Linked DNA regions of Homo sapiens. The protein of the gene in region 2 interacts with the protein of the main gene of each other region in a biochemical or structural test. Each region holds a gene or a part of one and is shown on either strand. Other genes may lie near its edges.

Evidence for each region. The genes of interacting proteins can lie anywhere in the genome.
Region 1: the proteins of SORCS1 (region 2) and SORT1 form a complex in vitro, tested with the Homo sapiens proteins (2 studies listed by BioGRID and IntAct, with this or other methods).

Annotation. Positions count from the first base shown.
Region 1 is NC_000001.11:109,394,908-109,402,515, reverse strand, and holds the start of SORT1 (sortilin isoform 1 preproprotein), read left to right. Parts: upstream 1-4,597; 5' UTR 4,598-4,623; coding exon 4,624-4,929; intron 4,930-7,608. Other genes in the region: PSMA5 (proteasome subunit alpha type-5), read left to right, coding at 426-503.
Region 2 is NC_000010.11:107,161,705-107,169,623, reverse strand, and holds the start of SORCS1 (VPS10 domain-containing receptor SorCS1 isoform a precursor), read left to right. Parts: upstream 1-4,917; 5' UTR 4,918-5,097; coding exon 5,098-5,655; intron 5,656-7,919.

The sequences.
Region 1 (7,608 bases), on a different chromosome or scaffold from region 2:
AGGCACAGAGTGGCCAAGTAACCTCAAGTCACACACACAAGCTCAACTTTTAAGTATTTAAATATACTTCAAATATATTTCTAAAGGAGTCTTTAACAGAAAAAAGTACTGACTCCATGTACTTTGCTGCTGCTTTTGTGATCCCTGTTGAAGTGACTTCAAGAAGTGACAATGATGCCAGGCATTTGGTTAAGTATGATGTGGTGAGTTAACCTTAAAATAGAAAATTTGGTCAATAAGCATTTTTATTTTGGAGCCAGAGAGCTATTTTAGGGACCTGCTGCCTGGAAAGGATATCCTTGGGACAGCAGATCCCTTAGTTCCTAATGAATAGCTGCATCACCAACACAGCTTCTCCTGACCATGGTAGGGCCATCAGCAGGGTAACTCAGCCCAGCTTATTAACCCTTCTGTTTTCTTTCCAGCTAGCCACAGTGCAGCCTGGCCAGAATTTCCACATGTTCACAAAGGAAGAACTTGAAGAGGTTATCAAGGACATTTAAGGAATCCTGATCCTCAGAACTTCTCTGGGACAATTTCAGTTCTAATAATGTCCTTAAATTTTATTTCCAGCTCCTGTTCCTTGGAAAATCTCCATTGTATGTGCATTTTTTAAATGATGTCTGTACATAAAGGCAGTTCTGAAATAAAGAAAATTTTAAAATATTTGTTAATAGACTGTTCTCTTCTAATAGTCTTTTTTTTTTTTTTTTTTTTAAGAGATGAGGTCTCACTATATTGCCCAGGCTGGTTTCAAACTCCTGGGTTCAAGTGATCTTCCCGCCTCTGCCTCCTGAAGTGCTAGGATTATAGGCGAGAGCCACTGTGCCCAGCCATTGTAATACAGTCTTTTGTTTGAAATGCAAATGTTAGTGGGCCAAAAGGACAGTGTTATTAATATCCCTATTCTATGAAGATGTCTGTTCTAAAACTGTTTTAGTGATGCTCTATAACAGAATCAACTATATCCATTAATCCCATGGTGTTGATAAATGAACTAGTCCAGCTCTTCCCAGTGGTTAATAGATGTTAACAGCACTGTAAATCCATTTCGGCCCTATAATTTCTGGAGCAAACGTGTATTTTTGCTGCTTTTCTTATAAGGAGATGCTACTAATTGACTATCAGAAGAACATGTTTTGAGGTCCTCCTCAAAACATTGATGGGTTGGAATCAGCCATCAACAGTGTTGTACCAGTTCTTGGGTCTTGATAGACAATTTGGAAAGAGATTTCCTTGTTTACGAAGTGAAGGACTAAGAATTAAATTAATGACCTTGGCCTCACTGGCAATCAATTACAAATCTCTATATCAGTAAGAGAATTGTAAAATTCAGAAGCAGTTTACATTAGACTTTGGAATGAATGATGAACTTTCCCCATTAGAGCTGCCATCATATGATTGGTGGAGATTGTTTAAAGAATCATTCTATCTCAGCCTCAAAAATTACCACGGGAAGATGGTATCAGTATCACTACTTAACAGATGAAGAATCTAATGCTGTGTGCCCATGGACACACAAAATTAAGCTGTTGGGACTTGAACAGCTCAAATTTTCTTGTTTCAGATCACCAGCTCTTGAGTAATAGGGAAATCTGGAGATTTGAAAAGTACTTGCACTGTCCACAACATGGCTAATCCATATGTGGATGATGCAGAATTGATTTAATTCACTAACAGGGACCCCATAATTATTTGCTGGGCTCTGGGTATATTGATGTGTAGGAAGTTGTACTATATGTTAATAAATTATGACTATTTGGATAGGCTGAATTCATACTAAATCCATACTGTAGTTCAACAAAAAACAACATGTTTATATACATTTGGAAACTGCAATGATAGGAAACATTTGGAAGAAAGGGATTTTGCCCTAGAATAACACATAAGGAAAGCAGAGAATTAGAGTATATTGTTACTGAATGTTCCAGAGACTTCTAGTGATTTTAACACTTATTAAGTATAGCATGTTGATGGGGAGATTTGTTTCTCTAAAGATCACTTTGTTTTATTAAATCCTAATAGAAAATACCCTTGAAAATCCTATCTCATTTATTCCTGTAACAAATTTATTGAGCACCTACCTACTATATGCCAAGAAATGTATTAGCCATCAGGCAGAGAGCTGTTCAAATGGTAGATATGATCTGTGCTCCTGTGAAACTTCTAGTGGGGAGAGCCAAACAATAAACAATATTCCTTTTTAACTCTAGGTTAATGCAGAAATGGATAAAGCCCATGTTGCTTTTGGGAGAGGTGAGTTGTGTCTCTGAATCACATGCATTTCATAGGGGGAAAAATGCCCAAATACTAAGGAGTAGCTCTTAGCCTATGTCCGTTCGCCTCAGCTTAAGTTGTTTTCCCTCCCACTGGCTGGGCAGCATATTTGTGTTTTACCTGGTAAAACAGTAAATTTCGTACCTTCTATAATTGGCATTCTTCAAAGAGGTAGAACTTTGATTTTTTTGTAGAATATTAAAACAAGCTTTCTTAGGTTAAAGAAGTGATCTTACTACGAACAGCAATGGTTTCATGATGTGTAATTGCTTTATGTTATCTTTCTGCTATAGAATGTTTCCTGGAGAAAGGTACGGTTTTTAGTAATAAGATAAATTTACTTTAGTCCTGCAAATAAGGTGAAATCTTATGTCCAGTATCTCACAAAGGAGAACTGACAGTGCCACTTTTATATTTAATGTCAATCTCATTAGACAAAAATGAAATATAGTTCCTAGGGTTTCCAATTTAAAAAGTGAAATAATAAATATATTCACTCAAACATTTTCTCAGTGCCATATGCAAGTTACCATGTCCCAGAAGCTGATACAGTTTGAAGAAGGAAATATATAAGTACTGTAAGCCTGTGATAACTAAAAGCAACATACTAAAAAGTGAAGGTACAGATAATTGGAACAAATTTAATAGCGTTTAAAAGTGTATTTGGTAATTTCTCCAGGAGGTGGCACTGTTGAGTTGTTTTTTCTTTTCAGACAGTAAGACAATAGACCATTCATCTTTGTGTCACCCAAACAAAGAAATATTCCTTTATAACCCCCTTTCCTCCCCCCACCTAATCACATGCTACTGGAACTGACTGTCTTGTGATCTACTCCCATAGTTGGCATAGATTTAAAAATAATCTTTTTTAAATTAATCTGATAGTAGTTATGGAAAGGAACAAATTGTTCACCAATTTTCATCAGCTTTATCTTTTCAGTCCAGTAACTGAGAACTTAAAAAGACTATTCTAGTGATTTTACTATCCTGCTCAGATGGCATTCAAAAACATTTTTCACTTCTCACGTCTTGGAAAAATTTGTAAATTCGTTAAGTCTTTTTGTTTGAAAGTTAATGTGACTGGAAATATTTTAATGTAAATATCGGGTTGGGTGCATTGTATCATTTTGCTCTACAATGACTATATCCTCATTTGGGTTTATGGCCAGTTTATAATTAAAAGTAATCTTTACTTGCTTTGAGTGTAATGACTTGCATATTTTGTATCTTTCTATTTGCTACCTTTTCTACTGAACAATTTCTAGCTTTCTGAAGGGATGGAGTCAGTAAGCTTAAGGATTCAGAACTGGTTTTACCTGTGCTACGTGTTGTAGAAGTTGTGTGTGCAGCTTCTGCGGTAAAGGGAACAGCGTAGGGGTTTTATTTTATTCATTAGAGGTGGATCGGGGTGCTAATTTAGAGGACATCACATACTGGAACCAAACTTGTCCGAAGCTCTCACTGCAGAGTTAAGGCACTTTGGTAAAATAAATGTGCATCTAGGAAATGATCATGTGTACAGTAGGCATTGGATCATTCTCTTGCCCCTCTTTTACCTGCCCCTAATGCCTAAGCTACATTCGAAGTCCTGGAAAACCTGTAAGTAATTCCGCCTTTGGCCTACCTCCCCTCAGAAGAGGAAGGTGAGAGAGGCCAAACGTATGGAAAGACTATTCTTCAGGCTTGCAGGAGTCACGGATGTCCTGATGTCTGTCTCCGTAGGATGTGGCCCACATCAGTTCGCATTCACCTTCTTGCAGCAAGGCAGCTGCTTAGCAGACAATGGGCGCTCCAGTGAGCGGGGTTTATAAAAACCCGAAGCCCCGGTTCATGATGGAGCCCCCTTTTCCAGCTGAGCAAGCTCAGGGATTTCCTGGGTAGGTTTTTCCAGGCTCTGCCTCACCGAAGGAATTTTAGGAGTGTCTCTGGGGAACAGGAGGGACGTAACCCAGCCCCAACTTGAGGGCGCTAGAGGTGCGGCAAGGGGTCGCGACGCCAGGAGCCCGGGGCTCGGCGGGAAGGTATGAGAAGCTCCTACGTGAACTCCACAAGCCGGGCCCGGGAGACGCCGGGCGAGGCGGGGTTGACCTCAGCAGTCTCTGCCCCGTTCCAGCCAATCAGTCCCGCATCTTAGCATCCGAATCCAGGACCCCCGAAGCCGGAGGCGACGCGAGCCAATGAGGAGTGGGCCGGGGAAGAGGGACAGGCGGCCAGCCTATGGGGCGGAGAGGCCCGGCCGCGCGTATCCAAGGAGCGCCGCGCTCGGCTCGGGGGTGTGGCGCGCGCCGGCGGGGGTGGGCGGGCGCGCCGGGCGGCAGGTGTCGGCGTCGGCGGCATTCGGCGGCGATGGAGCGGCCCTGGGGAGCTGCGGACGGCCTCTCGCGCTGGCCCCATGGCCTCGGCCTCCTCCTCCTCCTGCAGCTGCTGCCGCCGTCGACCCTCAGCCAGGACCGGCTGGACGCGCCGCCGCCGCCCGCTGCGCCGCTGCCGCGCTGGTCTGGCCCCATCGGGGTGAGCTGGGGGCTGCGGGCGGCCGCAGCCGGGGGCGCGTTTCCCCGCGGCGGCCGTTGGCGTCGCAGCGCGCCGGGCGAGGACGAGGAGTGCGGCCGGGTCCGGGACTTCGTCGCCAAGCTGGCCAACAACACGCACCAGGTGAGCGGGCGCCGGGCCCGGGAGCCGCTCGGGTGCGAGGTGCCGCCCGCGTGCCCCTCCCGGCCCGTGCGCCCCGCGACTCCCGGAGGAGACCCCAGCCCTGCCGCGCCCGCGTCCCCCGGGCCGCAGCCCCGAAACTGCGGCGGGCGGGCGGGCGGAGTCGGGCCCGGGCGGCCGGCGGGGCTGTGTTTTGTCATAGGGGAGGCAATCTTAGACTTCCACCGCATTCTTTTTTTTTTTTTTAAGTTGTCAAAATCTCTTGAACATCGTTTTTCGTCTGTATAAATAATCAGGACCCAGTAACGCTGTTAGGCCCCAGGAAGGTGAAGGAGTAATTAACTCTTGAGCGCTTGCAGAAGTTGGGCTGCGCAGAAGCAAAGGTGTGTCCTCTCTGGGTCAGTACTTTCCGGGTGGGAGAGGCGGGAGTTCAGGAGGCCCGAAGCAGCGATCTGGTCACCGTGTTTTAATAGTTAAGGGGACTAGCTTGGAAATGAGATGGCAATATTTATGTGATCTCTTTTACTGCTTCAGATTTGACCTTCTGTCATGGTACGGAAGTCTGACTAGCATGTCTATATCCCGTGGTGACAAGATTTTCAATAGTTAAGAAACGCATTGCACATATTCTGCTTTGAGCCAGCTCTTGGTCAAAAGACTTTCAAAATTATGGGATTTCTGTCCCTGGGGACAAGCAGCTCAACCTTTGCACACTACTGGACTGACAAAACTAATTATTAAGAAAGTCCTGGTTCCTTGCTTCAGCACAACTTGGGCATCTTTCTCCTATTTCTCTAAAATTAACAATTTAATCCTTGCTAGCCACATTTGCATAATGTATTTTCAATTCTATATATTTTCTCCCTTGCCTGTTTTCCTCTTTCAAAGAAAATGAATTGCACTTGGGGGCAGAGATGGGTGGCCAAGGCTCTGTGCCAGCACTTGTCCTTCTGTAACCGTTTTTCAGCGTCAGCCAAGCCTCAGTCTCCCTTTGGACTGCCTGGTTATCTGGACCATACTTGTTACCTGTAATAGAATTCTCTGATCTGAGGACACAAGACACAAATATTCAGGAATAATTGTGCTTAGTGTATCCCGAGCAGCAGCTGTGTAAAGGTAGCCAAGCTAGTGCTGGAGGGTGAGACAGGTTGGGTAGAATGAGTACTGGGAAGTCTTCCTACTTGATGAGAAAAAAAAATCGAATAGACTTCCTTCTCACAGTGGGGGATTGAGAAAGGCTTTACAACACTAATGCTTAATTTATACTGGACCACTTCCTTCCTTGAGCTAGCTGGTCACAGCATTCTTGCTCCATATTTCAAATTCTTCTCTCGCTGGTTGACCTAACTTTAGGTCTGCTGCTACTCCTGGATTTAGATTTACTCCTGTTTTTCTTTTTCTCTTTTTTTGTGAGATAGAGTCTTACCTCAGCCTCCTGAGTAGCTGGGACTACAGGTGTGCACCACTATGCCTAGCTAATTTTTGTGTAATTACTATTTTTTTTTTGAGATAGGGTCTCACTCTGTTGCCCAGGCTGGAATGCAGTGGTGTGATCACAGCTCACTGCAGCCCTGACCTCCTGGGCTCAAGTGATCCTCTCACCTCAGCCTCCCAAGTAGCCGGGACTACTGGTACATGCACCCAGCTAATTGTTCTTTTCTTTCTTTCTTTCTTTTTTTAAGAAACAGGGTTTTGCCATGTTCCCCAGGCTGGTCTTGAACTCCTGGGCTCAAGTGCTCCACCCACCTTAGCCTGCCACAGTGCTGAGATTAGAGGCGTGAGCCACTATGCCCTGCCTGGATTTATTCCTTGAGTCAGAGTCTTCCTGGTTAGTTTGAATTGATGTGTCATTTGTAATATATTGATTCCAAAGAAAGAGGTTGAAAAAACTGGCTCAGGGGTTCTAAGGCCAAATCTGTGGAAGAGTAGACCTAAAACCACTCATTCTTTGAAGTCCACATGTAAAGAAATTTTCTTCTATTTCTTTCATTTAGCTGTTTGCAATAATTTTTTTTTAGTTTTTCTCTCCCAGTCTTTTTTTCAGTGACCTTATTTAAAATAGCTATTTTGGCTGGGCACGGTGGCTCATGCCTGTAATCTTATCAATGTGGGAGGCCAAGGCAGGTGGATCACTTGAGGTCAGAAGTTCAAGACTAGCCTGGCCAACATGGTGAAACCCTGTCTCTACTAAAAATACAAAAGTTAGCCAGACGCGGTGGCATGCGCCTGTAATTCCAGTTATTCTGGAGGCTGAGGCATGACGATCACTTGAACCCAGGAGGCAGAGGTTGCAGCGAGCCGAGATCGCACCGTTGTACTCCAGCCTGGGTGACAGAGTGAGACTCTATCTCAAAAAAAAAAAAAAAAAAAAAAAAAAAAAAGTTTTTGCGTTTGTTAGTCATCCGTGGTCTCTTCTTCAGAGATCTCATCCTTTCTGTATCTGGTTAAAAAAAAAAAAAGTGGAGCCTTTGTTTAATATCATTTACCTTAAAAATGGTTAAGTAGTACTTCTTAACCAAGAATTGTTATGTAGTAGCCTGTTCTTCTGTTTATTTATTTGGTTTTAGAAGTCATAAAAAATCCTGAACTGTATTGAAGAGATCTAGTATTTTTGGACCGTTTATAAAACAGTGTGAAATAAAAGCATCAGCATGACAGAACAACTTTTTATCAGAGATATTG
Region 2 (7,919 bases):
GGTGTGATGAGACAGAGGGTACACAAATCCAAGATAGTTTTGTTATCTCCAACGGGTGTCCAAGGTAGAATTAACTTTCATAACATCCTTATGAGTTAGGTAGATAATCTTAGCCCTGTTTTTAAAGATAAGAGGGCTTATGTGCTCCTACTAACACCACTTAGATTGGGTGTATGAGAACGGGTACAATTACTGGATTCAGAGCTAGGTCTGTATTTGTTGATACCTGAAAGTATTTTAAGGGACAGATTTTAAAAATCCCATCATTCTGTTGGCAGGCAATGAGAATAGCCTGCATATTATTCTCCCCAGTTTTCTTTCTGTGGTTCTTCATGAAATTGATCTGAAATGCAAGACAAGACACTTTGTCTCAATGGTATCCAAGGGGAGCCAAATATTTTGAGAACTATTAAAAGACATTGTTCAAACGATGAGGCATATAAATGTGATTTAGTGCAAACTGAAGCCAAAGTAGCCATCAAAAATCAAGAGACTTAGGAAAAAGGGAAGACAAAAAACCAATGAGACAGTTAACCTGTAGCTTATGCTGTAAGATTATGTGGGGAGTGGTTATAACATTCTCTTTAACATTACTTCCCACACACAAAATAAAAGCAAATAGAAATGGGGAGTATATATATTCCCCTCAGCCTAAAAAAAGTGCACACTTGTTCCCAAAATTGCTTGCTCAGCATTACTAAAAATGTTTCAAGCCAATTAGAGTGCCTGACACATAGAAAATCATCAATAAGTGTTATCTGTTATTAGTTGGATTTGGAGTAAAACAGTATTTCATAAAATCAAGAACATACTGGGAATAAGAATGCCTACGTAGAAACCTTGTCTCTTTGCACTAATTGCTGTGTGACCCTAGTTACTTAATATCATCTGTGAAGTGGGGAGAATGATAGTACTTATGTGATATAAGCTTTGTAAAAAAAAAAAAAAAAAAAAAAAGGCATGAGCTGGTACATTTAAACTCCATAGCATAGTTTCTGGCATAGAGTATATATCTGATTTACAAAGTACTAGTTACTAAGAGTTGTGCTCCTAGGCTTGTTATACTGGTGCCACCCAGCTAACCAGCCATTATTTATTGAGCACTTAATTAACTAGGCACTGAAAGAAATGTTGAAATGAGGTTAATGTTGAAAATAAATGTTGAAATAAGGAGCACAGGGCCTTTATCCACATGTGGATTTTTTGGAAGTTATTAACAAAAAACAGGTTTAAGTAAAATAATTAAATGCTGTAATATACGCTTAGAAAGATCTGGCAAGAGATTGATACAGAAAATGTGGAATAAATTTCTTCTGTAGGCAGAGGTTCAGGAAAAGTCTCTCTAAGGTTGTATATTTAAAGTGAAGGTCTCAAAAAAGAGGAGTCAGCCATATGAAGTGGGGTTGGACGGTGGACGTTCTAGGCAGGCGGAACAGCATGTGCAAAGGTCACGAATTGGAAAAAACTGGGCACATCAGCGAAAAGGATAGCCCCTAATGGTTGGCGTATTAGGATGAGGGTAGAGAATCCTGCCAAATGTGATGGAGAAGTGAGTACTTGGTCAGCCATGGTAAGGAGTTTGGATATTATTCTGTTTGTGATGGTAAGCTGGCAGGAAGTATTAAGCAGTTACAATAAATTATATTTTTTATCCTTTTGAAAGACTACTTTTGCTGCCTTGTAGGGCAGAGTGTCCACACTTTTTTGATTGTGCACACCAATCAGTATACAATGACTAAATGTTCATATTCTTTGTCTTTCTGCCTCTGCTTCTTTCTCTATCTGCTTCTGTCTCTCTCTTTATACATATATATGCATATATATGAATATATATACATATGTTTATATTGTATATAAAACTGTATATAACATAGGTATATTAATCAATAATTAAATATTTTAGCAAGGCTAAATTTTAATCTTTCTGATTAAAACTAAATATATCACCAAATTCTATTATTTTCATCTTGCACAAAAATGGATCACCTGAGTGTGCTTGTGCCCTTGTACTTGTGTCATCTTTGGAGATGACTATTGGAGAGAAGGAACGGAACAGTGCAATTATGGAGTAGAGTGAGCAGTAAGAGGCTGTTGTGGTAGTCCAGATGAGAAATGATGATAACTTAGATGAAGTCGTGGCATATTTGTCACGTGCACAATGAAAAGACTCCTTATTGGAATTACAGATTTATGTTCTCTACTAGCCTTTGATATCAATTACTTTCCTAACAAATGACTCATTCTTATTATATTATATTAATAAAAATCTATTGGATTGCTTAGTGGGTTGTTGGATTGAAAACATCTTGAAATAGACTCCCCTCCATGATTAGCCTATTTATTGGAGTCTTCTAGATAAGGGGAATAATTTAGGAAATTACTGGTACTTTCCGCTTCTGTTTGTTGGCAAAAGTAAACGGGGAGCAGAGCCATAAGAAATAAAATGAATCCATCTATCTACATATGAACAATACGGCTTGCAGCCAATGTCATCCACACTTGTGTAACTTCTGTCTCAAATGAATAATTAAAATCAGGCATTAAAAACTTGCCTGCTCTCTATGAACTCCCAGCAAATGGACTGCAAATGCTTTCATTTTAAAGGGATCATTCTGACAGGTGTGTTTGAAAAGAGGTTGTAAATTCTGGGAAGGAAAAATCTACTCTACTTGTACGAGCATTCTTCAGGAAGCGCTTCCATTTTGAAACCAAAATAACATAAATGGTGGTAGGGCAATGATAGACTAAAGCCAGGAAATCTGAATCCACTAATGTCTTCTTTTCCATTTTGCTTCTTCCAGCCTATATTTGGATGATAATTTATTTGGGTTCTGATTCTTTAATCTGCTTTTCCTTTCTTGGAGGAATTCCCATGTACTTATCCAGACTGGAAAGGAGGTTAGCAGGGCATAGAAAGAAGTCATTAAGTAAATGATCCTGCAAAGCTCTAAAAACCTTTCTGAGGAAAGAAAAAACTACCGCTCTGGGTTTTGACAAAGAACATTTGCAATTTGAGGAGGAGAGAGGACCTCTGGCTCTCCTCTCCTCCATCTAGAGGCCATAGCCTGCCAGACAGCCTTTCTGTTTTGGAGGATTCAGGCATAAAGGAGCTTTTGCTTGTATTTCTTCTTTAACGACAAACAGGACACTCTTTTAGGTCCTTTTAGGTACTCAAGTTTAATGGCTGAGAAGCCTGCCCTCCTTGCATTTGCACTTTTTCTGCGCTGGTCGTAAGAACAAGAACTTAGGCCGATATTTTACAACACCTCTCTGGATTGGATTGATATAACAGACGTTTTCTTGGACATTAGAAAGAATTTCATTAATTGAAGAGTAATTATCACTCTGTATTACTTTGAACTTGGCCTCATCGCAAACACGGTATACAGATTTTTCAGTGAGGTTATTATTCTAGTATGAAAATGAACAAAAATGTAACTAGAAACTGGAATCGGTACTATTTTGTTGTGTCATTCATTTATTCAATCAGTAAATATTCATTAAATAATGTAATAACATGTACCTAAGAGAATATTACGTATATGAAGACTGCAAAGAAATCTGAAACCATTTCAACCCTTAGAAGCAAACTGTCTACTTTAAAAAGGATTGGATTTTGAGAAATCCTTTGCCGTTTTCAAAGCCCATTCACCTGCTATAAATCTTCATCTGAACTTACGAATAGTAGCAGGGTGCTAGGCTGGGCAGATACTATAATCATACAATTATAGAATTTTAGGAGCGGAAGGGATTTTAAAGGTCATCTAATGTGACCATTTAATTTTAAAGCTTAGGAAGCTGACAGATTGTGATTTGTCTGAGGTCCCAAAGCAAACCAGTGGCAGAGCACCATCACAGACTTGCTATTAGGGATCTCAAAGCATGTGGCAGTAGCACTGGGCCAGGCACCAAGTGACACAGAATAACTATAAGTACTGTGCCTCCTTTCCTGTATTTATTTGTTATGCAGATATGCATTAGACTCACAATAAATATTTATTGAACTAATGACTGGCAGATTTCCTCCCATGTAGGGTACTGTGCCACGTACTGAGGAAAATGGTAAACAAAAAACAGGTCACTTCCTCCAAGTTGCTCGAAATTTGATCTTCCTGTCCTCAATGAGTTTGCAGTCTCTTAGGGAAACCAAGATATATACGCTTAAAAAACGCGTAGTGGAAAGCGTTTTCTTAAATATGATTGCATGCAGGAAGATTGGGTTCAAATTCAGTGAATGCTTTAGGAGGTTAGGAGAGAAATCTAAGCGTTAAAATTGATGGGAAAAAAAATCCCCCAAACTAACACACACACACACACACACACACACACACTCACACACGAGATCATTTAATTACATCACTCTCTGCTGCTGCCTTTCCGGGATCTCCCCCCAGGCTGGGACACACAGGCTCTGCTGCGGGTAAGGTCAAGATGCCAACTCAGGAAGCATAAGAGAGGGAAGGAGCAGAAGCCCACCCATCCCTATCTCCTCAACTAGAAAAGACCAGAAAGACGGAGAAAAAAGGAAACAGCAACATAGACTCATAGAAACAATAAAGCAGGAATAGGAAGCTCCCGACACATCGACTGCTCCGGGAGCCCGGGGTCGACCGCCCCCGCGGGCAGGGTGCGCGGACTCAGCGCCGGGACCCGCGGCCGCGGGGGCGCAGAGTGGGCGGCGGGGAGAGGCGGCGGCAGCGCCTGCGAGGCCGAGGGGAGGTCGCCGGCGGCGCCTCCAGCGCCCGGAGACCCGGTGCGCAGCGCAGCTCGGCCGCGGGACGCGGCGCCCGGAGTCCCGGCAGCGCCTGCCCTCCCTCCCGCGTCGCCCGCCAGCGCCCGCGCCCGCTCCGCCAGTGACTTCAGCTCAGCTCCACCCCCGCGCGGCGGCGGCTCGCTCCGTCCGGACCCGCGCTCGGCACAAGCCCAGCCCGGGCAAGCGGCCGCCACCTGCCCGGCGCCGCCTCCGCCCGCCCCCACCGCGGCGCAACTTGGATGGAGTTGGGGTCCTGAGCGCCGGCCCCCCACAGCCGCCAGCGCAGAGCTCGTGCCGCCACCTTCGTTCTGGGACCCCTCTCTCCGCTGCTCTTCGCTCCCGCGATGGGAAAAGTTGGCGCCGGCGGCGGCTCCCAAGCCCGGCTGAGCGCGCTCCTCGCCGGCGCGGGGCTCTTGATCCTCTGCGCCCCGGGCGTCTGCGGCGGCGGCTCCTGCTGCCCCTCGCCGCACCCCAGCTCCGCTCCACGCTCGGCCTCGACCCCTAGGGGCTTTTCCCACCAGGGGCGGCCAGGCAGGGCTCCTGCCACGCCCCTGCCCCTCGTAGTGCGTCCCCTGTTCTCAGTGGCCCCCGGGGACCGAGCGCTATCCCTGGAGCGGGCTCGGGGCACTGGGGCATCCATGGCGGTTGCTGCACGCTCCGGCCGGAGGAGACGGAGCGGAGCGGATCAGGAGAAGGCAGAACGGGGAGAGGGCGCGAGTCGGAGCCCCCGGGGAGTGCTAAGAGATGGAGGGCAGCAGGAGCCTGGGACTCGGGAGCGGGACCCGGACAAAGCCACCCGCTTCCGGATGGAGGAGCTGAGACTGACCAGCACCACGTTTGCGCTGACGGGAGACTCAGCACACAACCAAGCCATGGTCCACTGGTCTGGCCACAACAGCAGCGTGAGTAGAATGGGACTGAGGGTAAAGGGGTGGAAAGATGGAAAGGGTTAAAGTCGGCTGTGTGATCTGATGGAGAATTGGGGGGAAATAGGGTTTCTGGACATGGGAGATGCTGCAAACTGGTCTCTGCCCACTTCCCCCAAGAGTTAACATCACCTACTAGGAGACCAACCTCCCCATCTCTCCCACCAACACCATCAGAGTCCTCTCCAAATGCCACAGCTTCAAACTGAGGAGTCAAATCCCTATTTCCTGTTGCCTTGGTCGCATTGGTGTGTGGAACTGAAGACCAGGTAAACAGAGGGGTTAAAGTTCTCCTAATACAGAGATGAAAGGGTTAAATTTCCAGGCAAGCTGACATCCCCTCAAGTGACTTTCCCTTTACTTGCCAGACCTATGTACTGGCTCAAAGAAGATTAAGAAGACCCATATATGTAGGCGTTTTATTTTATTTTATTTTAATTTCATGCGGAGCTCCTAACCCCTTCTTCTCCACAAGGGAGAACTGCAGTGGAGAGTATATAAGGTGTTCTTTAGTGTATCCTCTGCTTTAGGGACCAAGTGGATGCAAGTTTCAGGGCAGGAACTCTCCAGCATCTTCTAACAGCGCTAAGCGAGGGTGTTTTGAGAACTGGGGCTTTCCAGCCCGTGAATGAGCGGTTGTTCTCTGGCATGGTCAGTCCCAGGAAGATCAGATATATCCCAGTGACAACAACTCCCTGTTCTCCCCCATTGCCTGACCTCCTCTAATGAAGAGCACAAATAAAGACTTAACATTCCCTTTATGAAGGCAGGAAAGGGATTGCTCAATTCCAGGAGGCTGGATTCCAGGGGACTTAGGATGCAAGTCCATGAGCTTTGGTCCTATCAGGAAAGGTTTTAGATTTTCAGAAAAGCTTGCATGTCTGCAATCTGAGGGAGCTATTCCTGTTTAAATTGAACCTAGAAACTTCAGTGAGTTGAAATAGTAGAGAACCAGCTTTGATTGTAATAACTAAAAGTGATTTTAAAGTGTGGAAACTTCTCCAGACATAGACAAGAACATAACAACCAAGGATGGGTAAAATGGGGGAAAAAAATTTCAAGTTTTACAGCTTCAACCAGGTAATTGAGATTGTAGTGTTTGTAATATGCACAATTTACGCAGTCTGGAACCTTTCAAAACGTTTTCTGTTGTGATGTAATTCCCAGAAACCTTCCCAGAGAAGTGCCACTTTAGTGAGTTGTGCTCATTGTCAGCTTTTTAATGAGAGTTGTGAACATTTTAAAATACTAATCTGTCATCATGAATTCCTTGGGTACACAGATATAAATTGTATTAAGGCACATCATGATAGATAATATTTAGCATTGATGTATCTGTCCTGAGAGTAGTAGCAGGGTTTTCCCTACAATTCCTCCTTCATGACAGAGTCTGTGATTTTATATGGTTCTCAGGAGTGGTTTGATCAAATAAATGAAGCTGAAATTCTTTCCATTCAAGTTCTGGAGACCCTTGCCCTCATTCCTTACCTTAACCATTATATCTTTCATATCATAGCCACTAAAATTAATCCTCTAATTTGAACTCGAATCTTCTTAAACTGATTGAATAACTTTCACACTGCTTTAAGTGATTAACTCAAAGCTTCTGGCTTTAAGGGGAGATTTGAAACACATCAAACATGTTAGCTCTTGTTGTATTAAGAAGTAAAAGACTTTGGACTCAGAATGTTTCTGGCTTTTAATGTAATTCAAGCTGTAAAATATCACTCACCCATTAGACCTCTTCTTTTAGCTCATCTCTTGAAAGATCTTGGAAAGAAAGAGAAAAGTAGAATACATCTTTGGCAAATTTTTAACCTCCGTTTAGGAAATGGTGCCAAGCACTGCCAGCATTAAAAAATAATAATAAATGGTGCTTATAATTCTAGTAGGGCTTATTAGGTTCAGGGCATTGAACATGCAGGCAGGTCTGAGATAACGTAGGAAATGAGGTGATGAGTGTTAAAGTTTTGATCACTCAAATCATGTTAACTAATGAGGTGAGATTTCTGCCCCCTGAAGTCTCTTATTCCATAAAGACCTCTGCTGACCCAGTCTCTGCTCTGGTCATCACACACAAAGGTGTTTCTTCTTTTTCTTTTTTAAGTATATACATACAGATAGTGGAGAAAGAGAAATAGTCTTTATCTATGTCCTCCAAAACAAAGCCAGTCCTACGTATCTGGACCAGACTCAGAGAAAGTTTAAAATATTTTTTAAAGGGAAAGAAAGCATAAATA